4 linked regions of the Homo sapiens genome follow. The protein of the gene in region 3 purifies or fractionates together with the protein of the main gene of each other region. This does not show direct contact. Each region holds a gene or a part of one and is shown on either strand. Other genes may lie near its edges.

What was found.
Region 1: the proteins of WASF3 (region 3) and CYFIP2 purify together in Homo sapiens (affinity purification with mass spectrometry; 3 studies listed by BioGRID and IntAct, with this or other methods). This does not show direct contact.
Region 2: the proteins of WASF3 (region 3) and CYFIP1 purify together in Homo sapiens (affinity purification with mass spectrometry; 2 studies listed by BioGRID and IntAct, with this or other methods). This does not show direct contact.
Region 4: the proteins of WASF3 (region 3) and NCKAP1 purify together in Homo sapiens (affinity purification with mass spectrometry; 3 studies listed by BioGRID and IntAct, with this or other methods). This does not show direct contact.

Annotation. Positions count from the first base shown.
Region 1 is NC_000005.10:157,261,914-157,269,144, forward strand, and holds the start of CYFIP2 (cytoplasmic FMR1-interacting protein 2), read left to right. Parts: upstream 1-4,209; 5' UTR 4,210-4,282; exon of another isoform or gene 4,283-4,671; intron 4,672-4,867; exon of another isoform or gene 4,868-5,033; intron 5,034-7,231. UniProt on the Homo sapiens protein: Involved in T-cell adhesion and p53/TP53-dependent induction of apoptosis. Does not bind RNA. As component of the WAVE1 complex, required for BDNF-NTRK2 endocytic trafficking and signaling from early endosomes.
Region 2 is NC_000015.10:22,866,552-22,872,396, forward strand, and holds the end of CYFIP1 (cytoplasmic FMR1-interacting protein 1), read right to left. Parts: intron 3,642-5,845; coding exon 3,477-3,641; 3' UTR 501-3,476; downstream 1-500. Other genes in the region: magnesium transporter NIPA2, read left to right, coding at 1-296. UniProt on the Homo sapiens protein: Component of the CYFIP1-EIF4E-FMR1 complex which binds to the mRNA cap and mediates translational repression. In the CYFIP1-EIF4E-FMR1 complex this subunit is an adapter between EIF4E and FMR1.
Region 3 is NC_000013.11:26,679,671-26,686,698, forward strand, and holds part of WASF3 (actin-binding protein WASF3), read left to right. Parts: exon of another isoform or gene 1-364; coding exon of another isoform or gene 365-531; exon of another isoform or gene 532-1,383; coding exon 1,384-1,650; exon of another isoform or gene 1,651-2,745; intron 2,746-2,936; coding exon 2,937-3,304; intron 3,305-3,845; exon of another isoform or gene 3,846-3,913; intron 3,914-6,017; coding exon 6,018-6,175; 3' UTR 6,176-7,028. UniProt on the Homo sapiens protein: Downstream effector molecules involved in the transmission of signals from tyrosine kinase receptors and small GTPases to the actin cytoskeleton. Plays a role in the regulation of cell morphology and cytoskeletal organization.
Region 4 is NC_000002.12:182,951,451-182,958,478, reverse strand, and holds part of NCKAP1 (nck-associated protein 1), read left to right. Parts: intron 1-882; coding exon 883-1,022; intron 1,023-1,885; coding exon 1,886-2,017; intron 2,018-5,147; coding exon 5,148-5,366; intron 5,367-5,555; coding exon 5,556-5,686; intron 5,687-5,976; coding exon 5,977-6,074; intron 6,075-7,028. UniProt on the Homo sapiens protein: Part of the WAVE complex that regulates lamellipodia formation. The WAVE complex regulates actin filament reorganization via its interaction with the Arp2/3 complex. Actin remodeling activity is regulated by RAC1.

The sequences.
Region 1 (7,231 bases), on a different chromosome or scaffold from region 3:
AAAATCATAATAATAATCCCATTTTTGAGCATTTATTATGTACCAGACTCTGCTTAGTGTGTTACATTATCATTTCATATAACCTTCACAAGAATCTAAGGGATATACTTTTTTGTTTTGTTTTGTTTTGCTTTGTTTTGATACAGTGTTTTGCTCTGTTGCCCAGGCTGGAATGCAGCCGCACCATCTTTGCTCACTGCAACCTCCACCTCCTGGGCTCAAGCAATTCTCTTGCCTATAAAATGAGGCAATTTTGAGCAAGTGGTCAGGTTCTATCTACAGAATGGCCAATGTAAATTCTGTAACTGACCATCAAGTTTATCTTTTCCTGCCACCCACATAAATACTTAGAACCAAATGTGTTAGCAAGCTCATAGCAGGTAGAGCTGTGATTGATTTTTGTTTTGTTTACATTTTGGTCTTATGTACATTCGATTCTCCATCTCATCTCTCTACTCTTTTCCTTCTTTTTAAAAAATTTCTTGCTGATTTTTAATTTTTTAACATAATGTATTCCTGTAACTTACATTTAATATGTTTTTAGAATAAGGTAGCATATTAGTAAACAAATGGACTTAGCTTGGAAGAGGGAAAGTGAGGCTGTATGAGATTGTGGTAAAAAGCATGGGTTTGACTTCACTACCTTGGGCAAATTATTAAACCTTAATTGCCTCAATTATAAAAATGGGAAAAATGATTGTATTTTCCTTATAGAAAAATTACGAAAAATTAAATGAGGTAATGTACTTGGTAAATGTTAGCCATTATTATTATTATCATTATTTATGTTTTCCCTTCATGCCCATTCCAGATACTTCATTACTGGTGTCTATAAAGCAGGGTCTCCTGATAGTTTTAAAATACATATATATATATATATTTTTTTTTTTTTTGAGACAGAGTTTTGCTCTTGTTGCCCAGGCTGGAGTGCAACAGTGTGATCTCGGCTCACTACAACTTCCACCTCCCGGGTTCAAGCAATTCTGCCTCACCCTCCTGAGTAGCTGGGATTACAGGCGCTCGCCACCATGCCCAGCTAATTTTTTGTATTTTTAGTAGAAACTGGGTTTCACTATGTTGGCCAGGCTGGTCTCGAACTCCTGACCTCAGGCAATCCACCTGCCTCGGCCTCCCAAAGTGCTGGGATTATAACTTGAAGCTTTTCTAAAACACAAGGTAATGTTGCCACATGGACAACATGTGGGCCACAGCTTTGCAAGTACCAAAGCAATTCTTATTGATATCCTCTACCATTTCATTGCTGATGCACAGCTTGGGGTTGGATGTGAAGGAAATCTGAAGGCAGTAGACAGACAGCTATACATTTCAGTGGCAAAGTTTAAAAATGTCACCTATGGGTGTTCATTCCATCCATTTTTACTGAACTCCTGTTAAGTACCAGGCTCCAAGGATGCAATGGGAAAGCAAGACAGACATATCCCTGCTCCCTTAGATTTTATGGTCTCATGGTGGAATACAGGGAAGTGTGTTGACAATTATAATGCAGACTAATACGTGGGGTGATAGAGGGAGCCCAGGCAGCTAAGGACACATAGACAACTAATCTCAAGCTAACCCAGACATGTAGGAATCTTGGAGGAAGCGACATCTAGAGGAATACCAGGAAGATGAACAGAACTTCATCAGGTAAACTGGGAAAAAGTGTGGAATGTGGAGGGAGGGAATGGGGGGACAGAAACTGCCATTGAAGAAGCCTTGCATGTACGAATGTCGAGCACAACAGAGAACACAGCAAGTTTGAGGAACTAAAAGCTGTTCCTTTTAGCTGAAGCACAGCAAGCTTGTTCACATGGAGAGATAGCTGCCAGCTCTTAAAGACCCTCTCCGGCCACTGGAGAGTTTGGGCTTCATCGGGGGGCAGTGGGGAGCTAGGGAAGTGCCTTAAGCCTGGGAGGGACGTGCCCTTTAACTCATGTAATTTTCCACATTCAGAGGGAAGTTGGAGAGCATCCAACTTACTTCACTTAACAGGTGAGGAAACAGGGGTGAGGCTCCTTGCCTAAGATCATTCTTCTGTTAGTTGCAAAACTAGAACCAAAAGGCAAGCCTCTGGATTTCCAACACAGTGGCTTCAAAAGACCATACTGCTCTCCTTTATACACAAATAGAACTCAGAGGTCGGAGTTATTTTTGCCTAAGATCTAACCAAATATATATGTAATAGTCTTTTCTGTTTTTAGGCAACTTGTTCCTGAAGGTGAAAAGACAGGGAAGGAACAACAGGGAGAAATACGTCTTCCAAAAAACTATACCATCTGCAATAATATGCCCCTTAGAATGAAAATCTGATTTATTGGGATTCTCATTGTTAAGTATTTGTAATCACTGAACTTGAAATCCCAAGGATCACGGTGGAAAATGAAACATTTTTTAAAAAGGAAACCTCAGTTCTGTTTTTAAACCCATCCTCCACAAACACCCCCACAGCTTTTCACACTGAACCAGGGAAGAAATGTATGTGTGTGTATATATATATATATATAAGTCATTTTTTTCCGAAATAGCAATTTGAATTGGAATTAGCGATTTAAGATCAAACCACAAGGAATTATGGATTCTGAGCACGTGGGAAATAAGGTGAGATCAGTAAAGGAAAGCAAAGGCTTCCACAAGTCCTTTGCTGGAGCTTGAATAACGGGGCTCCTCCACAAATTGCCCTTATTAGGAACAGCTGAGTGATTAAGTATAAATTTGTGGGCCTTAGGAAACCACTCCTTATATCTACATACACTCCACAATGTCTCAAATGTTTTCAAATTATTTACCCTGTAAGGTATAAAGGGCAACTGTTATTCCCTGTGTTGCAGATACGGTGACCTCTGTGGAGCAGAGTGGTGAAGTGACCTGCTCAGGTGTCTCAAGGTTAGAATTTGGTGCAGCCTGACTTCAGCCTGGTCTGAAGGCCTACCAGGCTGGATTTCAATGAGAATTGTTTCTTTCTCTTTTTCTTTTCTCTCTTTCTTTCTCTTCTTTCTTTCCTTCTCTTCTTTCTCTCTCTTTCTTTTTCTTTCTTCCTTTCTCTCTCTCTCTCTCCCCCCGTCTCTCTCTTTCATTCTTTTTTTTTTTTTTTTGAGACAGAGTCTCACTCTGTCACCCAGTCTGGAGTGCGGCGGCAGGATCATAGCTCACTGTAGCCTCAATCTCCCAGGCTCAAGCAATCCTCCCACCTCAGCCTCCTGAGTAGCTGGGACAAAAGGTGGATGCCACCACACCCATCTATTTTTTTTTTTTTTTAATTTTTAGTAGAGATGAAGTTTCGTTGAGTTGCCCAGGATGGTCTCCAATTCCTGAGCTCAAGCAATCCTCTCTCCTCGGCCTCCCAAAGTTTTGGTATTACAGGTGTGAGCCACCGCTGGGCAGATAATTGCTTCTTTAAAGAGCCCGACACGGCAGATAAGCCTTGAAGAGAAAGGTACCTGTCCTCTCAGTGCTTCCTGCCACCTATTTGTCCGTTAGGCAATTCTTCCAGAATGAAGTTGAGGCAGGCCCCTGTAAAAGAGGTGGCAGCTTCAGGGACTCTTCTCCAGGGAACTGGAAGGGAGCGGAAGAACTTATTCTTAAGCGAAGGAGCCCTATCAGCGACCAAGCTCAATTGGTGGAAGGCCCCTTCCCCTAGCCCCAGTTGCATCTTCTGTCACTTCACCCTGCTCCTTCTCCTCAGAGCACTTTGGGCTGTAACTGGACGTTTGCTAGGTTAATTTACACCTGTTTCTCCTGGCAGGTGATAAAACTCCAAGGGGGCAGGACCCTGTCTTTTGTACACCAGTGCACACCCAAGTCCTGGCACGGTACTTGGAACAGGATAGGTAATCAATAAAGACTGGGTTGATAAAAGAGCACTTGGAAATCATGTGGGGCCAATAAGATCCGAACGCGGCCGAAGCTCTCGTCCTCGGGTTGCTGCAGGTGTGGTTCCCGGTGATGGAGGCCGTGGAAGAAGCCTTCCCTCCCTTTCCCGCCCCCAGGGCAGGAAGCCTGGGGGCTGAGCGGTCCTCCGAAACCGAGAGGCAGGTCCTGGGTGCGCCGGCGGTACAGCGGAGAGCGTGGAGAGACCCTCGCCGCAGCCATTTCCTGCCCTTTGTGTGACAGCCGCTGCGGCGAAGGGGCGGGCGCTGGGTGGGGGCGGAGCCGCGGCGGGCGGAGCAGCGGGGCCGGGGCGGGGCCGAGCGCGGCGCAGCGGAGCGGGGCAGAGCATCCTGCGCCCCGGCGCGGGGCCCTGCGGTAGCCTCAGGCCCCTCCCCTGGACCCGCCGCAGAGCCAGGTAAGCGGCCCTCGCAGGCCTCGGGCCGGGCACGGGGACTAGGATGCCGCCGGGGACGGGGATGAGGCCGTGAGGATGCGCGAAGGGCCGCCCCCTCTCCCGGCCCGCGGGGGGCGCTCGGCGCTGTGCCCGGGCTAGCCCGAGGCCCGGCCTCAGGCCCCACGCGGCCCCTTTCCCCCTCGGACCCACCGTGCGTCCCGCGGCACGGACCCTCTGCCCGGGAGGCGCGGGCACATCGCGGAGCTCCGGCGCGGCGGCGGGGGAGCCGCAGCAGCAGGTGCGCGGCCTGGGCCGGAGCCGCCAGCCCGGGAGGAGGCGGTGCTAATCTCAGGGACCGGAGACACCTGCAGCGGCCGCGAGCCCGGCAGCGGCGACATCCTCGAGTCCAGGTACTGCAGAGCGCTGGCCCCTGCCTCTGCCGCCGTGACCACCGTCACCTCCCCCAGGGCCAGCGAGAGCCGCCTGGGCCCGCCTGGCAGCCGCCTCGGGCACACAGAACGTGTGATGGGTGGGGCGAGGGGCGCAGCGTCGATGTTTGGGGGCGGAGGGCTTTGATGAGAGAGGAGCAGGTCTGACCCGCTTGGAAGCTTTCTGGCCTACACTAGCATCGCTCACCAAGCTGGCTGCGGGCACGGTGGAAGTGGGGGAAGGGGATGAGTGGGCTGACTCCTGGGGGAAAAGGTGGTTTTTTTCTTGAGCTCTGAAGAACCAGGAAGATGCTTGCCTGTCTGTTGTGGCGTCTACTTTTCAGGTCAGCCCTACCCCTCACCCCAAAGAACAGCCCACCTATGTGCAAAAGAAGAGGAGGAGGTGCTCTCTGCTTGGGGATGGGGGCAGGTAGCATGTTCCACATAAGTATGGCCCTCTATATCCAGAACCCGGCTGGAAAGGACACTGACAGCCCAGGTGCCTCCCCAGCACAGGGAATCTGATTTTGACCTTTGCTTGCCTACTTTCCCCAGCACAGTGGAAACACTCACCAGGGCTGATGAGCCATCAGCTGTCCTTCCAGCTAGGCCAAGAATGGGACAAGGATCTTTTTCTGCTAGTTCCTGGGTGCCTGTGCCCTCAGCATGGGCAGGGAGACGGAGGCAGGCCTGCTGGCAGGAGGGGCAAATCAGGAGACTGTCGGTTCCTGTGTTCCCATTTCCTGCCTCCTGTCTGTGTCCCAGTTAGGGCAGTGGGTCTCACCTTACTCTTGGATACAGGCTGTGCCAGCAACCTGGGTCCCTGAGATCTTAGAGGGCAAAAATCAGGTCCATATCTTTGGGCAGGCCTGTGAAGGCCTTGATGGTTGCTTTCTCCACCATTAGACCCTCTCTCTGTGGCCCTCCTGGTGGCCTCCCACCTCCACTTCCATACAGTGCCCTGCCCTTCCCCCAGTCTCCAGTGTCAGAAATGGTTTTCAAGAAAGGAGCCAATGATTGTGTTTATCTTGAAGAGCTAAATACAAAAGAAGTTCCCATTTGATGCAGAGCAGGTGCTTTACAAGTCATTTGACCGGAAAAGAAACAGAGGATGGAGGCATTTTAATGGGAAACAAAGCTTTAATGGGAAACACTGTAGAAATATTTGCTATCACTAATGGTAGAATTTCAAACAGTGGGCTGGAAGTGGAGGTGGGGAGCTGGGTAGTTCTTTTGGGAACGGGTCCCTGAAATGACAATATCTAGCAGCTGTCAGCTCTGTATTTGGCAAGGGCAGCTTTGGCCCTGCAGGCAGGAATGCTGTAAGAGTGTGTATGCATGCATGTGCATGCGTGCATGTTTGTTTGACTGGTCAGGTGTTACTGTCACCAGAAGGCATTTTTTGAGCACCCAGTGTCCACTTTCGGGATGAGAAACTTGTGTACACAGGGTTCCTCGTTGGCATTGGCTGCCCTTTGCCAAGGCAATTATTAGACCTCAAGAAGATAGTGTTGTTGCTTACAAAGTCAGTGCCTCTAGCTAGTTGTGCGCACTGAGCCTCTGGCTGGGGGCATTAGCTCTCTGCTCACTAAGCTTCTTTATTATATTTCCTGGCCAGTTCTGACCGGTTCTGTAGGCACCCAAGGCTGCCTTGTTCAGTCCCTGCTGGAAAATGAAAAAGGAAAAACTTGCTTTAGGCATTAGGCCAAGAGTCGGATGTACAACCCAGTGGGGTTGGAGAGTTTTACTCAAATCAGATGCTGGCCCAGAGAAGGAAGTAGACATGAATTCAAAAACCGGTAAAAGGCCCTGGTAGAACACTACATGACCCCTCTGATAAATCATGCCCTCTCTGATGTTCAGTGGCCTCTGCTGCTGTCATCAACCAGAAAGCTGAATGAGATGATGAATCGGCTACAAGCTAATTAACGGGAAAAGCGCTCCTGGAAAACAGTACGGGTCCCAGTCCCTACGTTTAAAGATTGGACTACACTCTCAACGCAGCTTCTTTGGACCACTGTTGGCCCCAGGGGTCCACCAAAAGCGTCACAAAATGGCCTTTTGTAGCCTCCATGTGGCCACCGTAACAATGAGTCTATTTCTTTACTGGCAAGTATTAATTATTCACTTGTAATTGACAAAGCCAGACATCAGTCACCTCACTGGAGTCTTTATGAAAGGCTTTTGGTCCTGTCATTCTGAGGAGCAAAGCCATGCCTAGGGTCCAGGGGATGGCCCCTGCATCAGTAGTGAGATGGTGGGAGAAGGGGGGCAGGCTGCTGCCTTCTTGGCAGTGAATGGAGGCAGGGGAGGAACTAGAATATCTTTGGATGCTCTTACTACCCAAGGGGTGCATGAAAGTGCCGAGCAGAATGCTTAGCACATAGTAAGTACTAGCATATTTATGTATTTATTGTTATAATGTATTAATTACATAATCATTAAGAATTTGGCTTATGTATGTAATCAACCCTTGGCTATTACCAGCCCCTCTCCCTCCAGAGCTTTCCTGAATTTTGCTTTTTTGAGGGAAGTTGGTCTC
Region 2 (5,845 bases), on a different chromosome or scaffold from region 3:
GTTCAGCTATTCTTTTTAAGGAGTGGCAAGATATGCCTGTTGACGATGTCATTGGTACTTTGAGTGGCTTCTTTACAATCATTGTGGGGATATTCTTGTTGCATGCCTTTAAAGACGTCAGCTTTAGTCTAGCAAGTCTGCCTGTGTCTTTTCGAAAAGACGAGAAAGCAATGAATGGCAATCTCTCTAATATGTATGAAGTTCTTAATAATAATGAAGAAAGCTTAACCTGTGGAATCGAACAACACACTGGTGAAAATGTCTCCCGAAGAAATGGAAATCTGACAGCTTTTTAAGAAAGGTGTAATTAAAGGTTAATCTGTGATTGTTATGAAGTGAATTTGAATATCATCAGAATGTGTCTGAAAAAACATTGTCCTCAAATAATGTTCTTTAAAGGCAATCTTTTTAAAGATTTCACTAATTTGGACCAAGAAATTACTTTTCTTGTATTTAAACAAACAATGGTAGCTCACTAAAATGACCTCAGCACATGACGATTTCTATTAACATTTTATTGTTGTAGAAGTATTTTACATTTTCATCCCTTCTCCAAAAGCCGAATGCACTAATGACAGTTTTAAGTCTATGAAAATGCTTTATTTTTTCATTGGTGATGAAAGTCTGAAATGTGCATTTGTCATCCCCACTCCATCAATCCCTGACCATGTAAGGCTTTTTTATTTTAAAAAAACAGAGTTATCCCAATACATTATCCTGTGATTTACCTTACCTACAAAAGTGGCTCCTGTTTGTTTGATGATGATTGGTTTTATTTTTGAAATATTTATTAAGGGAAAACTAAGTTACTGAATGAAGGAACCTCTTTCTTACAAAACAAAAAAAAGGGCAGAAATCACCCCAAGGAACGATTTCTCAGGTTGAGATGATCACCGTGAATCCGGCTTCCTCTGAGCATTCGATGGCCTTAGCACCTCATCAAGCCAGCACATCCTGCCTGCTGTTGCAGCCTGGCTGGGTTTATTCTTCAGTTACCCTAATCCCATGATGCCTGGAACCTTGATTACCGTTTTACATCAGCTCTTGTACTTTTCAGTATATTTTCATAATGAGTTATATTGTCATTTAGACTTTGAACAGCTCTGGGAAATAGAAGACTAGGGTTGTTTCTTAAATTTAGCTCATGTTATAATAAAAAGTTGAAATGAAGTTCTTATTCTAAAAGTCTGAATGCTTAGAACAAACTTAACATGTTTATAGAATATGGTCTCTTTGTACCAAGTACTTTGCTTAAGAGCTCCTTTGGGCCACTACATATTTTGGTTTCTAGAAAATGTTTGTTTATGAAGAAGTCGATGGAAAACTGCAAACATATGCAGAAAAGGTAGAATAATAAAAAAGGTCTAATGAACTCCATTCAGCTTTGAACCTATCCACTCATAACCATTGACTGGCCTTTAAAAAAAAGTATTGGCAGAATTAATTTCCACCTAGGTGATGGGAAGAAAGTGTTCGCCTGTTCCAGCCTGTGGCTCCTGCCTGGAGGTTACCCAGTGGTGCGCCAGCGCCAAGCCATCACTCCCCGAGGGCCTCCCCTGCCAATGGTGCTGGTATCCCATGCAGCTCACCACTGGCTGCGTGGAAACTCCCTTTTTTCCAACTTTATTATTGGCCTTCTAAGGAGCTGTTTTAGATGTTTTTTCTAACTGCCTCCTCCCATGCCATTTTAATACTACAGATGTACTACGTATCTGTTTATATACTGTACCTACATCTGTGCTTTGTACATAAAAGAACCAGTTTTCTCCCCCTTGAGGACAGAGACTCATTTGAACATGCATAGGTTAATAAATAATAAATTCTTATTTAACATTTTGTAGCACTTGAGATTGTCTTATACCTAAGGTATTACATATTTGGTATATAATTAAGCCTTATAAAACTTGGTAATTGATTAAGTTTTACCATAATTTTTCATCCTATTCTGTAGTTTCTAAGATAAGCACAGCTACCACCTCTAAATCTGCAGCAGAATGCTGGCCCCAGGGTTATTAATTCACATTACCAAAAGCATTTTTAGGGAACTTTTTATAAAGAAAGAATAATTGTTTGTTAGGCTTCATGTCACTTGAGTGAGTTTGGCAGTGTAACAGGATGGTTCGTACACTTACTACTTTTCTGTGCCGTGCATCATATGCTTCTGGACAGTTTCCAAAGGCCTCCGGAAAAGTAGGCGAGGCCTGCTTTTTATGGCAACTTGGCATCCATAGAAAATTTTAAAATTGGTGAAGGTTGCAATACTCCAAATAATGTAAAATGACTGCCAGGCTACAATATAAAGTGAGTTCAGTTAATCATGCTGGACTTGTGTTTATCTGTAGTATTCATCTACAATAAACAGGCATAGCATCTTTTTCCATTCAGTTAGTTAGGATTTTCAGAACCTCATTGCCTTAGTACTTTTTAAAATATGGCTTTAGTTTCTCAAACATGTTCGTGACTCTACTGGTAGTCTAGACCGATTGTTTTTCATTCTGACAGATCATGTGAACCAGCTCCAGCCATGTGAGCCCTGTGGATCGGGGACAGCTGAAGGCTGGACTCGGTGCTCCCGGTCCCTTTGTGCAGCACCCACTGGGCCTGACTGATCTCCTCCCACATTGCTGGCTTCCTCCAGGTCATGGGCACAGGTAACAGAGAGGCACTGAGTAGCCTCTTCATATCCAGATTGGAGCAGCCAACACGGCCGTTTTACACCTCATTTGCCTGCGGAACCCTAAATATAAAGCTAAACCTGTGCTGAGGTGAGCGGTATATGGGATGGTGTCACGGTCCCATCCCACCTCAGCCTTAGAGGTGACCTCCATCCCAGCTGGCCTGGTATGTGAGTTCAGGTTAGAGTTCCTTGCCAAGCCAGGCAGCACAGGGTTAGAGTAAATAAATGAACACAAATAGATCTCATTAGTTTTATTTCTATAACCTTTCGATCTGATGTCACGTTAGATTTTGTCACAACTGGATTTAGTGGAAGCAGGGGAATCAAGTTCACTATTTTCTGAAACACACAAAAAAGGGATGGGAACAATGACTTAGAACTAAGATTGCTCATAAAAGACCATCAGAAAGATCCCTAAACAAAAGCTAAATAGTTACAGTTAATGGTAACTGGCAAGGGATTTAATGCATTTGCTGGTATTAAGTTTCTTATGGAATGAATGAATGAACCCAGCAGCATTTTATGACACAGCTGCCAGAACATCCCATAGAAAAACAATTTTGTAGGAACGTGATGGCAACAATCAGCAGCCAATATTCTCAAGAGTTCCTAATTACCAAAAGCATATACAATTTTAGTCTAGAAAAATAAGTCAATTTTATAAAATTAAGTTTTTAGATCGAAAAGCACCCCCTTTAACAGGTACAGAGATACTGAAAAATAGTCCCTAAAAATCTCACTAAATAGTTTACGGAGAGAAAGGCATGCCATGTTGAGTTACGGAGTGCAGCGCGTGCCCTCAGCTGCTGGCGAGGGACTGGTGGATGGGCGGCTGGAAGCAGCGCACATGCTCCACTGGCGTGCCCTCCCCGTCGCCTGACTTCAGGTACTTATCCAGGATGGTGATGATCTCATCATTGAGAATCTGGAACTTGCGAATTCTCTCCACCATCTTCTTCAAAGGCTACAACCATCAAAGTGAGGATGTTTTACTATTAACACTTCAACATTTATTCTTCATGTTTCAAAATGTCAGGATTCTTATATTTTCTCAGAAAAATAATAGCAAACGGAATTGACACACATACTGTTCTTTTTGGGTTTTTTTTTGTAAGATAGGGTCTCACTCTGACGCCCAGGCTGGAGTGCAGTGGCATGATCACGGCTCACTGTAGCCTCAAGACATCCTCCCACCTCAGCCTCCTGAGTAGCTGGGACCACAGGCGTGTACCACCACACGCAGCTAATTTTTAAATTTAATTTTGTAAAGACAAGGTCTTATTATGCTGTCCAGGATGGTCTTGAACTCCTGAGCTCAAGCAATCCTCCTCTGCCTCAGCCTCCCAAACTGTTGGGATTACAGGTATGAGCCAGCACTCCCAGCCACATACCATCTCTTTAATGCAACAGTTGGAAGGATGAATATATTTTGAATTTAGAATCCCTCTGTTGGCTTCATGCTGCTGTAGATTCATTCATGCGCACAATTGATAGGCCTATTCCTTCCACATTGGCAATTAAGAACCTACTGTCTGCTCAAAGCTGGGGATCTCCAGATGAAGATGATGTGGTCAGTGGAGAAAGGCCAGTCAACTAACACAAGTTTTAGACTTCCAGTTTGGAAATACTGTGACGGGATACTCTGACAGACCCTCCTGCTACCACAGGAATAAAGAACACGAATTAAGAACATACACGCAAACAAAACGCTTTGAAAAGCTGGTTCTACCTATGCAGGTGGTAAGGGGGAAGCCAGGGCCTCCTCAGGGGCAGATGCCAACAGCGGCGGTGGGGTGAGGAGCAGCCCGGGCGTAAGCAAGCGGGACCACACCGAAGACTCCCCAGTGAAGCCAGGACCTCCAATTCGGCTAAAGCGGCCCTGAGTTGGTAGCACCCCATAGAGATGGGCAGATACAAATGCACATCTTGGGGGAAAGCAATCTAAATTAACTCCAGTTAAATAAAGACTCCCAAATAACCCAACACACAAGGAAACAGCAAAGTTTTAAATACCTCCAAGGCCTTCAGATACTAGAAGGAAAACACACAGAATATAGAATACATGAATTGGATAAAGAAATAAGAGATGGAAAAAGTTCAGTTAAGACAATAAAACTGTCAGTTACCAAGAAGATTTGAAGAACCTAATTGAACTTTAAAAAGTGAACTAATAATATTTTCAGAGTAAAAGCTCAGCAGATTAGAGCTGAAGTAAACAAGTTAACTAAGACACATGAATACAGTATCTGGACACAGCTCTGGGAGCCCCGGAAATGGAGGAGTGGGAGGCAGAAGGGCCCCTGAGAGAGGCCCATGACCTGGAGCCTGTGACTGCATTGCCTCCACTCCACGGGGCCTGGGCAGGTGTGGCTAAGACTGGACTGTAGAACAGGGAGAGTATCTGGGGTTGTCCAGTGGGCTCAATATAGTCACAGTCAGGGAATGTTCTCTGGCCGGAGGCAGGAGAGACATGGCAGAAGACTAGAGGCTGAGACTGCCCAACCCACCATTGCTGGAGGGGGCCACTTGGAAAGCATGAGAAGGAAGGGGGACCCAGTCCTACAGCTGCAAGGAATAATTGAGCCAACTGTGCATAAGCTTGAAGGCCTCCAGGGTGAACCCAGCACCTCAGACACTGGCCCCATGAGACTGAGCAGAGGACCCAGCTGGGCCTGGCTGAACTCAGGCATCTGACTTAGAGAATTGTGAGATAATCAGTGGTATTTAAACTGCCAAGCCTGTGGTGATTTGTTGTCATGGAAGCAATAGAAAACTAATACAACAGGGCTGGGCGCGCCTGTAATCCTAGCACTTTGGGAGGTGGGCGGATCACCTTATGTCAGGAGTTCAAGATCAGCCTGGCCAACATGGTGAAACCTAGTCTCTACTAAAAATACAAAATTACAAAATACAAAAATCAGCCGGGCGTGGTGGCAGGTGCCTATAATCCCAGCTACTCGGGAGGCTGAGGCAGGAGAATCACTTGAACCTGGGCAGCAGAGATTGCAGTGAGCCAAGATCGTGGCATTGCACCCCAGCCTGAGCAACAAGAGCGAAACTGTCTCAAAAAAAAAAAAAAAAAGAAAGAAAAAAGAAAACTGATACAACAAAGAGATGTGGAGAATAGAATGAGAAGGTCTAACATATGTTTAACTGAAGTCCTGAATG
Region 3 (7,028 bases):
TAGGAATTTACATTTTTAAAATACTCTAAATCTAAATACAGGTCAGGTCCTTCCCCCATTAAATATATTTTTAAGTCATTTGCTAGCAGCTCACCTAGTTCAAAAGACATAATCAGAAGTGCACCATAATCCAGAATTCATACTGCAATTAGGGAAGAAAATAATGAGTAGTTATTAGTTGTTACACTTCAATTAAGGAAGGAAAAAGGAAAAGAAGCTGTCTCTTCTCATTTGGAAGGCTTTTCTGTGCCACATGGTGCCCCAGTTAAGAAAAGCTACCAACTGGAATCCCAAAGATGGAAATGCAGCGTGCATCTTCCCTGCTCCCTCAGCACCCCCAATGTGTGTTTGGTATTTCCTTCAGAGAGAGAAACACAAGCTGAACCCTAACAGAAACCAGCAAGTAAATGTGAGAAAAGTCAGAACAAGAAAAGAAGAGTGGGAGAGAAGGAAAATGGGCATTGAGTTTATGAGTGACGCAAAGAAACTGGAGCAGGCAGGGAGCGCCAAAGAGGACAGAGTGCCCAGCGGGTTTGTTGTTTTGCTTTCTTTGGGTTCCCAGACTCAGACTGCCCCTGCTTCTGCCGCCATGAGAGGATGTACAGCCCCTCCTGGCCACATGTCCTGTAACCTGAGCCAGGAGCGTGTGACTGTCTTACTAACGCCCACGGCACTGCCGGGCTGCCACACTTGGGTCCTTCCTCTCCTCCTGAGGGCTTAGCAGGAATCCCGTCCCTGCACCCCATGTCTCAGCTCTGCTCCACTAATCCAAGATCCCTTTCCTTTCGGAGTTTCACACCCAGTTTGTGTGCAAAGAAAACTATGGAAAGAAGGCCTTTCCATAGTGCACCGCATTGCTTTCTGCCCTTTTTGTTAAGTACATTTCTTCTGTTTAAGAAAAATATGATTCACTCTACTGCATTCTCGATTTCTTTTCCTGTTCTTACTGTTAATATTTATCCAGTTAACCTGCCATTTTATATTTTCTAATTATATGCTGTCAGTTTCATTGCCACTGAAATCTTCTGTCTTATATCCTGTTTCTAAATGGAATGGTTTCTTTCATAGCCTTCTTAGAGAAAACGTATGCTGAAATACTGTGAAAAGGAGGCTCTGCTGTTTCCTGCTTGCCGGTCTGTCTGACTTATTCACTTCAAAGCTGTGAATCTGAATCCATGTAACACTGGGGCTTGCTGCCGACTTATAATAATTATGTTGTTGCTTGGAATCTCTCACGGGGCTATACCTAGTTGATAGTAAAGCAAATTAATGTCTGATTTTTGTGTATTAGCAATGTTATTATTCAAATACATCCATGTGCCTGTTAGCCGACAATTTTTAAATTAATTTAAATTTCTCCCACCTCTTGTTTTCAAATGCCAGGTCACATGCATCGGACGTTACGGATTACTCTTACCCGGCTACTCCCAACCATTCTCTGCACCCCCAGCCTGTGACCCCTTCCTATGCAGCTGGTGACGTGCCACCACACGGGCCTGCAAGCCAGGCTGCGGAGCATGAGTACCGGCCCCCATCTGCCTCGGCGAGGCACATGGCCCTCAACAGACCTCAGCAGCCGCCCCCCCCGCCTCCCCCTCAGGCCCCAGAGGGGTCCCAGGCCTCTGCACCGATGGCTCCAGCAGACTACGGGTAACTCAGCATGCCTTGTACCCTAATCCCTCCTGGCCTTGCATTTGAATCTTGCTCTATGTGGTAGGAGAATTTTAACTCCGGTATTTTAGAGGCCAAGATAGAGTCAAGGATGACTGGATGTAGATACTAGCAACTCTAACATTCTGTGTGAAATAAAGCAGGTGCAGCATAAGCTCAGACTTACAGTTGAGTCTCAGGCCACACTGTGCATGCATGTGTGTTCCCTCACACACACTCTGGGTGTTTGAATGGCTCTTTAAGCCAAGGCATTGATAAAGGGTATTAAGTGCTGATTTTGTGAACCTGTCCCAAACCCTCAAGTTTCTGGACACATCCTGAGTGGACCACAGAAAATTGTTATCACAGACGAGAAGACCACACCATGCAGCTCCTGTGCCTCATTTCTCAGACTTGACCAAAATCTGCTTTCGTGACCTCTGACCACCCAGACATCATTCTGCCCCAGGCCCTCCTGTTCCCTGAGAAGTAGAATTCAGAGACTTCATGTTCAGGCGTTTATCAATTTAGGCACCCACCTCTCTTTTTTTTGGCTTTACTCTAGTCTTTAAAGACTTCATTCCTCAGAGTTGGTGCCCAGGAAAATTACCGTGTGTTGGTGTCCACTGCTAACACGTGTCTGCACACCCCTGTCTGAATGACAATCCTGCTCTCAGAAGTGCTCTCCCTGGCCATGCATGCCAAGTCAGGATCCCCAGAGTGGCTTGAGGCTGTGTCAGGCCAAGAGAGGGCCCATGGTCCAGTTAGTTTGGAAGACCCTCGGCTGAATAGAATTCAGCAGATTTCTTGGCTGTGTGACTTTTCGAAGCTTTTGATACACACCTGGGCACTGCAGGCATGGGGCATTTCCACGGAGGTGGGTTAGAGAATGTAGAAAGCTCCCAATCTGGTTGACCTTAGGACCCTTAAAAGACAAGTTTGTGAGCTACCGCCTTGAGATCCCAGTGTGAAGCCTTCACTGGCGCTGCCGTCCTGGCCTCTGCAGTCAGCTGCTTTATTCTGCCTTTCTTCAGGAAGTGCTGCACTTTTTGAGTGGTCCTCCTTTTGGCACATTTCAGTAGCAGATCTTGACTTCTGTCATAATGAATAATGTCAAACTGTGAAAATAACTGACCCAAGGTGTGCATGTTTGCATCCTGCCATGATTGAAGTTCAGGTGACAATACGTGTTGTGTCTGGGGATGGCTCCGTTAGGTGTCTAAGAGCTCCCAGGACGTGACCCTCTCTTGTTCCCTTGGTGACTATGTGCCTCATATCTCTCTCAGGATGCTCCCAGCGCAGATAATTGAGTATTACAACCCATCCGGACCACCTCCTCCGCCACCTCCTCCTGTGATTCCCTCAGCACAAACTGCCTTCGTCAGCCCTCTCCAGATGCCCATGCAGCCCCCGTTCCCTGCATCAGCCAGCTCCACGCACGCAGCTCCTCCTCACCCACCCTCCACCGGGCTCCTGGTCACAGCCCCGCCACCCCCGGGCCCACCACCTCCCCCGCCAGGCCCTCCTGGTCCCGGGTCTTCTCTTTCGTCCTCCCCAATGCATGGCCCCCCAGTAGCTGAGGCGAAGCGGCAAGAGCCTGCACAGCCACCAATCAGTGATGCTCGAAGCGACCTCCTCGCTGCTATTCGAATGGGTAAGTGGAGCCCCCAGACACACAGCCTGCCTTTCAGCAAGAGGTTTCTTCATGTCTCCAGCCAGCTACAGCCTCCTTGTCTTCAAATGACTACTCACTACGTTTTTTAAAATAGAGTTAAAGGGGTCTTACTTGATTTTTTTGTTTTGTTTTGAATAGTAGTTGTGTTTTTGTCCAGTGTAAGGTAATCAAATTGTGATAAAGATTGGGAAACAGCCGGGCGCGGTGGGCTCATGCCTGTAATCCCAGCACTTTGGGAGGCCAAGGCAGTTGGATTGCTTGAGCCCAGGAGTTTGAGAGCAGCCTGGGCAACATGGCAAAACTCTATCCCTACAAAAAATGCAAAAAAAAATTAGCTGAGCATGTTGGCCTGAGCCTGTAGTCCCAGCTACTCAGGAGGCTGAGGTGGGAGGATTGCTTGAGTGTGGGAGGTCAAGGCTGCAGTGAGCCGTGGTCACGCCCCTGCACTCCAGCCTAGGCGACAGAGCGAGACCCGTCTCAAAAAAAAAAAAAGAATTGAAATTAGGAAGTTTTTACTTACCTTGAAACCAGAAACCCAATAACTGAAGTGATCGATTAATTAATTGGATCTCTTCTCTGCATTCTGCTCTAAGGGGAAAAGTATAAATGAAAGAAAGTGAGCTCATATTAATGATTTCTTTAAAAAAAAAAAAGAGTTTGTGCTGGACTTGTCATATTTGCTTGATGTCCTAAGCCAGTGGTTTTTCAGAATCTATAATATTCAACAGCATAACCCTTTTGTCAGATGAAAGTCCCGCGTTGACCCCCTGACCACAAAACACATGGAAACAGAGCATCTCAGGTGGAATTGGGTGGGGAGTCTGCCCTCGCCTGTCTTGGGCTGCCCAGAGAGCCCCTGGGAACCTCCAGCCCACACCATGGATTCTTAACCAGGTCCCAACCCAGGTTGGTCGAGGGTCCCTGACATGTTATGGGAATATCCAAGAGCTTCTCGCCTGTGGGGAGCTGCACAGACTTGGTCACAGTTTAGTCATCTCATCTGGAAGTGACCAAGCAAGGAGCCTGGCTGCAGCCCGCCAGCTCAGCATCAGGGATGTCCTTCAGAGGAGCTGTGATGCTGCTGCCTCTGCGTTTTTCTTGTGTGCCCATGAACCAGGCCCACAGTGTGGCCCACGCACCCTTCTAAAGACCCCAGGGTCCTCTGTGTACCTGGACATCATTGACACACTTTTATTTTGTCAAGATAAAAAAGTCCTAGAGGTATATTAGCTCATGAATATCAAGTTCGGGGTCATTGTAGGACGGTGTTGGATTTGCCTTTTTTTTTTTTAACACCTTATAAGCCCTGTCTACCAAGAGTAGATACATAATCTGTATCTAATCTCGAGGAAACATCTGATACACCCAAATCGACAGACATTCTGCAAAATAGCTTCCTATATTCTTCAAAAACGAGAAGGTTGTAAAACACAAAGACTGTGAAGAACTATCCAGATTAAAGGACATTAACAAAATTGACAACCAATGTCACGGATAATTTCCACTGGATTCTGAACCAGGGGATAATCTTTTCCATTTGCAATTAGATTGGGTCTTTTTGCAAAATTTGAATAATATTTGTAGGATAGATAGTAGTAGTGTATCCAAACTAATTTTGTGATTTTGATATTTTGGGTGGGCGAGGCGGGGGCGGTAACACATGAACTATTTTAGGGGTAAAGGGACATTATATGCCATTCACTCTCAAATGGTCCAGAGAAAAGTGTCTGTGTCTGTCTGTGTAAAGATGATAGGGGAAGATTGGGAAATAAATGTGGTCAGATGTTAGCAGTTGGGGAATCCAAGTATATGGGAATGTTTTTCTGCTGGTCTCATAGCTGTTCTGTAAATCTGAAATTATTTCAAAACAGTTAAAAAATGAATGGATACCATCTTGGGCAACATTGCAAGACTCTATCTCTACAAAAAAGAAAATACAAAATTTAACCGTGCATGGTGGCGTGCGCCGGTGGTTCCAGCTACTCAGGAGGCTGAGGTGGGAGGATTGCTTGAGCCCAGGAGGTCGAGGCTGCAGTGAGCCATGATCGTAACACTGCACTCCAGCCTGGGTCACAGAGTGAGACCCAATCTCAAAAAAAAAAAAAAAAATGGATAAACATTAAATCATCAAATATCTTACTTTGTTACTAAGCTAGAAAGTAGATGATTGTATTTTATGTTTGTTTCCACAGTAATTGTTGAAATAAAGGTTTCTCAGTTACTTCTTGGGTTAGCTGAGAGTGAGTAGCATAGAACACTGTTTCCAAGGCTCTGGATGCTGTTGCTGCCTAGTAGATGTCCTGTGGTGATAGAAATGCTCCAGCCTGCAGCGTCCCAGAGAGTAGCCACTAGCCACATGTCAGTTCATGCTTTTAAGGCTATATGTGCCTAGTGGCTGCTGTCTGGGATGGTGCAGCTCCACAGTTTTCTCTAATGGTGTTCAGGTACACTGAAATTAGGAATTTTTAATATTTTAACACATTACTTTGTTACAAAAAAACTTCTCACTTTGAATGCATGTTTTTTCTCATGAAACTTTTAATATTCCCTGAGCTTTTCTCCCCTCAAATTTCTAAAACTTTCTGTCCTTAGTGTCAGTAGAAAAAAAAGTCCAATAGACATATTTGTTCGTTTATCTTTAATTTGGAGCCAGCAAAAGGATGTGATTCTGAACCACGTGTTGTGTCTGCAGGAATTCAACTGAAAAAGGTGCAGGAGCAGCGGGAGCAGGAGGCCAAGCGGGAGCCAGTGGGGAATGACGTGGCCACGATCCTGTCCCGGCGCATTGCCGTGGAGTACAGCGACTCTGACGACGACTCAGAGTTCGACGAGAACGACTGGTCCGACTGAGCAAAGGCCGGCGGAGAGGCCGCGTGTGGGAGCGTGTTGAAGATTTTAAGTGGTCTCTACACCCAAATAGTGGTATTCTAATCCCGTAGCATAGCACCTTTTGTATAAACAATGTGATATTGCTTCTGCACATCCAAAAATTCTGGGTCTTTTCAGTATTTACTGTGTAATACTTAAGTGCCACTAAACATAGCAAATTGTGCTGCACATGAGGAAATAGGCTGTCACTATCACATTGTCCTGAAAACAGCATCTGCTTTCCTCTTGGCCATGAGAGTATTTAGTGCAGTTTGGGTTTACTCTTACTGATCAATATAACTCTGCAGACTTGCTGTGTGTTTGTGAAGCTGCCTGGTGTTAGGTCTCTGCAAGACTAATGACTATGTCAGAGTGATGTCTTCCAACCAGTAAGTGATATTGTTTCACCGCTTTGGTTTTTCCTTTTGTTTTTTTAAAGGATGTGTTTCTGAATAAGTTGGTTTTAGAGGGAAAGGTTCAACAAACAGGGAGAATCCAGTGTTTCTGCTTTCAGTTTCTTGGCTTGGTAGCCTCTGAGTGAATCTGATGCTCTGCTGAATAATTTCATTACCTCTGCACATGCCTGTCAAATATGAAATTGGAAGGGCCCTTTTCAGGCTGGGTTCCCTGTGGGCATTTGCTTAGTAAATGCCTGTTGATGGTTTTTGCAAGAGAATTCAGCAGCTCAACAGTAATGAAAGTGAAGAACAGAGTCCATTTTCCTTCCTGGGGCCATTGGGGATGACACTCAAGATACTTGCCAGTCTCTCCAGTGTGGGCACCAGCCGGCCAGAACAGATGCGAGCAGTCCATGACTCTGGGAGCTACACCGCTG
Region 4 (7,028 bases), on a different chromosome or scaffold from region 3:
ATATCAGAGTTATCCTTAGAAAATTACCTCTTCATGGCCAGGCATGGTGGCTCACGCTTGTAATCCCAGCACTTTGGGAGGCCGAGGCAGGTGGATCTCCTGAGGTCAGGAGTTCGAGACCAGCCTGGCCAACATGGCGAAACCCCATCTCTACTAAAAATATACAAATAAAATTAGCTGGGTGTGGTGGCAGTCGACTGTAGTCCCAGCAGCTCAGGAGGCTGAGGCAGGAGAACCCAGGAGGCAGAGGTTGCAGTGAGCTGAGATTGTGCCATTGCATTCCAGCCTGGGCAACAAGAGTGAAACTCCTTCTCAAAAGAAAAGAAAAGAAAAGAAAATGTCTCCTCATGCTGTGGCTATTTTAAAAAATTGTCGCTGTCTTTTTGCCTGCAGTTTACAATCCAACCTCTAGCTTGGCATTCAAGGCCCTTCCTAATAGTTGAAACCTCTGTACTTTACCTTACACGTTATGCTCCACCACATAGTAGTTCTAACTACAGCTCTGAACCATCATATCTTTACACAGTTTTTTTCCAAAGGCCATTTAATCCTTCCAGTGAAATATTCTTTTTCATTCCTTGCTTGCCTGGTATGTTTTTACTTGTCTTTTTAATAGTAATTTAAATAAGCGTCTATGAATTTACTCTATGACGTGTTTCTTCACACAAGATTTACCCAAGATCTACCCGTTTCTGTTTTCACCAAGCTATGTGCATTACCCAAGCTAGCTAAGTAAGCTCTGTATCTCACTTATATTTCTGTCTTTTAATATTGTTGTGATATTTGCAACACAGCCTGGATTCAGCTACTGTTTGCTTGAATAGTTAGTATGCTTTCAGAGTAATTGGTGTAATGTAAGATTTCATTCTTTTCTAAATTTAGTTGCTACCCAAGCATTGTGCCAAAACTATCAGTCAAGCAGTGAATAAGAAATCAAAAAAGCAGACTGGTAAGAAAGGGGAACCTGAAAGGGAGAAACCAGGTGTTGAGAGCATGAGGAAAAACAGGCTGGTTGTGACCAAGTAAGTATCCACTTATATTATACCTTTTTGCTCCAGGTAAAATATTTATTTCATTTTTTTCTATTGACATTAGTACTGAGGAAATGCTAATAATTGTATATTCTTCATTTTCCAGCCATTTTAAAAAATATTTCTGAGCTTAATTAACCTGTTAGTTGCTTATTTCATCTCAAAATACAGATTTTGGCCTTTAGAAGAAAATATATGTAATAGTTGATATTTGTCTTTTTATACTAAGTACTGAAGGCCAATTATATGTTTAAAAAATTTTGTGTGTTACATTATAAGCAATCTGTAATTTTTAATTTATTTAAAGTTAGATAGTGGAGACTTTATTTTGGCATGTTTTTGATATATTAGAACATACCCAATGTCATTATTATAAAACAGAAATAACAGACCAGGTAGCATTCAGGGATCTTTGCTTGCTTCATTGTTTGGAGGGGAGGTGTAGGTGGGTAATAATTCGGTAAATATTTTTTGTTTAAAGTATAGTTCCTACTTTCTTGCTAAATTGAGCAAGCCATTGCCCTTTTATAGACAACTTTCCTTCTCTCATAACAGAAAGTACTTCAGGAATTGGGCGTGATTATCTTTATGAGTGCAGAATAAGCTCTACCTTTGTATATTAAGTCAGTATATTCATTACTACCTAAAGGTAGAAACAAATGACGCCATCTTTAGAATATTGCTCTTATGTGTTAGTTATAACCTTAAAGATTTTGAACTTTCTCAGTTTAGGAGAATAAAAAGTCGAATTCTCTAAGCATTATCTCCAAATAAGGTTGATATATTTATAAAATTAATTTTGTATTGCCTGTGATGACATGTGAACATTTTAACTGTTTATTAATTTTTTTCAGCCTTGATAAATTGCACACTGCACTTTCTGAGTTATGCTTCTCTATAAATTATGTACCAAACATGGTGGTATGGGAACATACCTTTACCCCACGAGAATATTTGACTTCTCATCTGGAAATACGCTTTACCAAGTAAGAAAGAATATTGACTGTTTTTGTTTGTTGACTCAGTAATGAGTTTGTTATTTAATTATACAGTGTTTTATAAGGAAAAGCATTAGTAGAACTGGATTAGTGTTAAGAATAATGAACCGGGCCGGGCGTGGTGGCTCACGCCTATAATCCCAGCACTTTGGGAGGCCGAGGTGGGCAGATCACGAGGTCAGGAGATCGAGACCATCCTGGCTAACACAGTGAAACCCCGTCTCTACTAAAAATACAAAAAATTAGCTGGGCGTGGTGGTGGGCACCTGTAGTCCCAGCTACTCGGGAGGCTGAGGCAAGATAATGGCGTGAACCCGGGAGACACACTTGCAGTGAGCCAAGATCATGCCACTGCACTCCAGCCTGGGTGACAGAACAAGACTCTGTCTCAAGAATAATGAACTGGGAAATGCAAAGAATAGTGAACTGAAAATTACTGAAGATACCCAGATTCTTTTCTCATACCTATTAGTATTAACTAGTAACACCAGGCAAACCAGTTAATATCTCTGAGTCATAGCTTCCTTATATACAAAGTGAGAATATTGGAGCAAATCAATGTATTTCATCTTGCAGGTGGCAACCCAGTAGGTTCATGAAATCAGTTTATTAGGTTGTAGTCAAAGTTTAGAGAAAAGTGGGAGGGAAAGAAAGGACAAGAGGAAGAAAAAATAGGAAAAAAAACCCAGTACACTGTGTGCATTAAATATATATATTGCTTCGTGAAATGTTTCAGTTACATGTATGCATGTGTATTGACTTGCAGTGTTAAGATGCGTGTCATGCAGTAGGTCACAGTAAAATGTTTGAAGACCTGAGGACTAGATGAACCCTTACATGTTTTCTGAATTCACATGTTGCTGTTAAATAAGCCAATAGAATTCTAGATTCTTGAATTCTCAATTCTAATTAGAATTTCCTGTTATATATGAATATATATTTTATGTATGTATATGAAATAGTGCATTGATAAGTCAGAAACCTTTCAACTTTATATATATTGTTTTAACCTTTTTCTGAAGTTACATCCTTATTTATTAATATTTATTCATGAAAATTTTTATTTATTTGACAATTTTTTTCTTCAAAGCCTTGAAGCAATTTATAAAACAAAATTTTGCCAAAAGGTTTTCAAAGTTTCTGTAGTCATTAACAGGTGGTGTTTGTATTTGCACTATATGCTTAACAATGTGTTAAGTACTCTAGGTAATAATGAGATAAAGATAGAACTGTAGCTGGTGAGATGACTAAAAGAATTAGAGAACAGAATATGACAGTATATAAAGTGGCACTAAGTTGAGTGTTAAATTATCAGTTGACTTGAGAAGAGTCTGGTGATGAACTGTCTTTTGTTCTCCTTAGTAAGTCAGGCATCCTGACAGTAAAACCCAGAATGCCCTAGAACTTAGACCAAAGGGGCATTGTGCCTTGTGGTGTTTATTATTCTCAAGTGGGTTAGAGGTGGGACATTGGTGGGTGGAAGGGAGAGTTCAGTGTACAGCTCCCTTGTTTTCCTTGTAAACAGTCTGCTTTGTTAATCCACAGAGAAGCAGTTTTTTTTTTAACCAAACATCTACTTAGTGATTAGGATCAAGGCAAGGGGAACAGCTTGTTTACCTTGGAAAGATTTTTTATTTTATTTAATTTATTTATTTATTTATTTTGAGACGGAGTTTTGTTCTTTCGTCCAGGCTGGAGTGCAGTGGCACAATCTCAGCTCACTGCAACCTCCATCTCCCAAGTTCAAGCAATTCTCCTGCCTCAGCCTCCCGAGTAGCTGGGACTACAGGCGTGTGCCACTGTGCCTGGTTAATTTTTGTATTTTTAGTAGAGACGGGGTTTCGCCATATTGGCCAGCCAGATAGCTTGTGAATATTAGTGGGTTGGTTTTTGTCAATCAACTGAGCACAGTCTTAGGACTTAGGGATTATACACTAGGATAGCAGTTTTCATCTTGCGTTGGCTCTTCTTGGCCTGTTTCTAGTGATGGGATTTGTCGGTTGTCTTTTAAGGATTCATCCTTACAAATACAAGTCTAAGATCTTTACAGATCTAATGCTCAGGGAGTTTTAAAGAAAGTGAAATAGGGGTGGTCAGTGTAGGATAAGATCATTTAGGGAAGTATTTTCAAAATTTGTGTTTCCTTTTTAGTCGTATACAGTTTCTTGAGATATAAACAGAACTGTTTTATATGCTATGAGTGATTAAAGAAAATAAAGTTGTTTGTTGCCTTATTTTGTTTGACTGTCATACAGTTTGTTTAGAGGCAGCACTAAGTCAGGCAGATCTGCGGTCAAATCCTAGTCATAACCACTTCCCAACAAAACCTTATCAATTTATGTGAGTCCTGAGCTTTATTTTTTTCCTCTGGGAGATATAGTGATAAGTACATTGTAGGTGTTTATTAAATGTGAGGATTGTAGGTAATTTATATAAAGCCTCAAAAACTACTGGCACCTAACAGTGTCAAATAAATTCAAGCTGTAGACTAAATAGTTCACTGTCCTTGCTACAAACAACTTACCATGTTAAAGCAATTTGTAAAACCCTCTTTATACTTAAATCACTTTTGTTACTGGTATACTTAGAATGTTTTTAATCATTTTATTCACATTTCGTTGTAGTTTTTAAGTTTTCTTTTTTCTTTTTTTTTTAAGACAGTCTCACTCTGTTGCCCAGGCTGGAGTGCAGTGGTGCAATCTCAGCTCACTGCAACCTCTGCCTGCTGGGTTCAAGCGATTCTCCTGTCTCAACCTCCCAAGTAGCCAGGATTACAGGCATGTGCCAGGCCCAGCTAATTTTTGTATTTTTAGTGGAGACAAGGATTCACCATGTTGGCCAGGATGGTCTCGAACTCCTGACTTCAAGTCATCTGCCCGCCTCGTCCTCCCAAAATGCTGGGATTACAATAGGCGTGAACCACCATGCCCGGCCTTCATTCTTTTTTTACGCTGTTTCCTGGGAAGATAATGACAGTAATTTTACAGCTTTGTAATAAATTATTTTTAAAGTTAATTTTATTGCTTGTTTAATATTAGATAACAGTAGGTTGAGTGGTTTATTTTACATGAATGGAAAAGTCAGAGGCTTTTCTTATTCTTCTATCCCTTCTTCCCAGGTCAATTGTTGGGATGACTATGTATAATCAAGCCACACAGGAAATTGCAAAACCTTCAGAACTTCTAACAAGTGTAAGAGCATACATGACCGTACTCCAGTCAATAGAAAACTATGTGCAGATTGATATTACAAGAGTATTTAATAATGTGCTTCTTCAACAAACACAACATTTAGACAGTCATGGAGAGCCAACCATTACAAGTCTATACACAAATTGGTAAGGAATGCATTTAGAAATTTGTAGTAGCGGAAAATTTGTAATGAAGTACTTAGGAAAATTAATTTTTTTGTGAATAAGTACTTATTCATATTATCAGTCAACTTAAAATTATATGCAGGAATGTATATCATGATACATTCTGAATTAAGCAGTTTCTTCCGGTTATAAGTTTACGTTTCTCCTTAGGTATTTGGAAACTTTGTTACGACAAGTCAGCAATGGCCATATAGCATATTTTCCTGCAATGAAAGCGTTTGTGAACTTACCTACAGAAAATGAATTAACATTCAATGCAGAGGAATATTCTGACATATCAGGTGAATAGTACTATACCACAGTTTAGAGAATGAAGAACACTTAATTCTTTTGCTAGTGTCTTGATTCTTTAGACTTTTGATTCTGTTGTGACTATTTCATTCAATTATATGCGTAACTGCATATTGTATCTTAGAATTACTTTTGCATTTTGTATTCTCTCTTTCACTCTAGAGACTTTTATCAGGATTTTACATTAGTTTTTATAATGAGATGTTGTATTGTGTTAATGTTCATTTTCTTAAAGTATTTGCTCTGTCGGAAGTATAAAATTAAGTATGTTTTCTTTCAGAAATGAGGTCATTATCAGAACTACTAGGCCCATATGGTATGAAGTTTCTAAGTGAAAGCCTTATGTGGCATATTTCATCACAAGTTGCTGAACTTAAGGTAATATAGTCTTTATTAATTTTAGCTTTTAAACATTAATTCCTGAAAAACATTTCAGGGATATGAGCAACAAGCCTACAATGTTAATTATTTTAATCCAACATGAAAGTACTAATATGAAAATGAAAATTAAATAGCTAGCAAGGCCTTTTTATGGCATCTTAGTTTAGTTTTCTCTATTTTGTAGGTGAGAAAATGGAAAGCGAAAATAGGTGAATTGACTTGGTAAAGGGGACAGAACCTCAGAGTCTTTGGCTTGTGGTCAGGCCTTCATAGTATTGAATCATGATGTTTTCTTTGAAATACCAGCTTCAAAATTCCAGCCAAAGTTAACAATTTGTTCACACTTGCGGTTTGAATGTATTTGCTTTCCATAGATTATAATACAAAAATTACTGGGCTTATTGCTTTTTCTTAGGTAATCTTTTAAATTATCTTATGCCCTCTAAGTTGAATGAAAAATGCCTTCAGAATGCTTAATGTTTCAGTAAAGATGTAAAGGAACTGAAGCAACAACATTTTAAATACCTTTTTATTAGCCTTTTAGAAATATCCTACAGCTACGGTGATTTATATTAAACGAATCTGTATATATAATAACTATGTAGTTTTTGAAAGAATTTGAACTTGGGCCACCAAAACTTTTGAACTTACAAGCAGAATAGAGAAATCATGTTTTAAAATAAACATTTTCTTCGTAAAAGCTTTTTGGTGGTTACTTGAGTCTTGATATTTTAGTTTTTGTTTGTTTGTTTTTTTTTTTTTTTTGAGATGGAGTCTCACTGTGTTGCCCAGGCTGCAGTACAGTGGCACAATCTCAACTCACTGCAACTTCCACCTCCGAAGTAGCTGGGACTACAGGCACGCACCACCAAGCCTGGCTTATTTTTGTATTTTTAGTAGAGACGGTGTTTCACCGTGTTGGCCAGGCTGGTCTCGAACTCCTGACCTCAA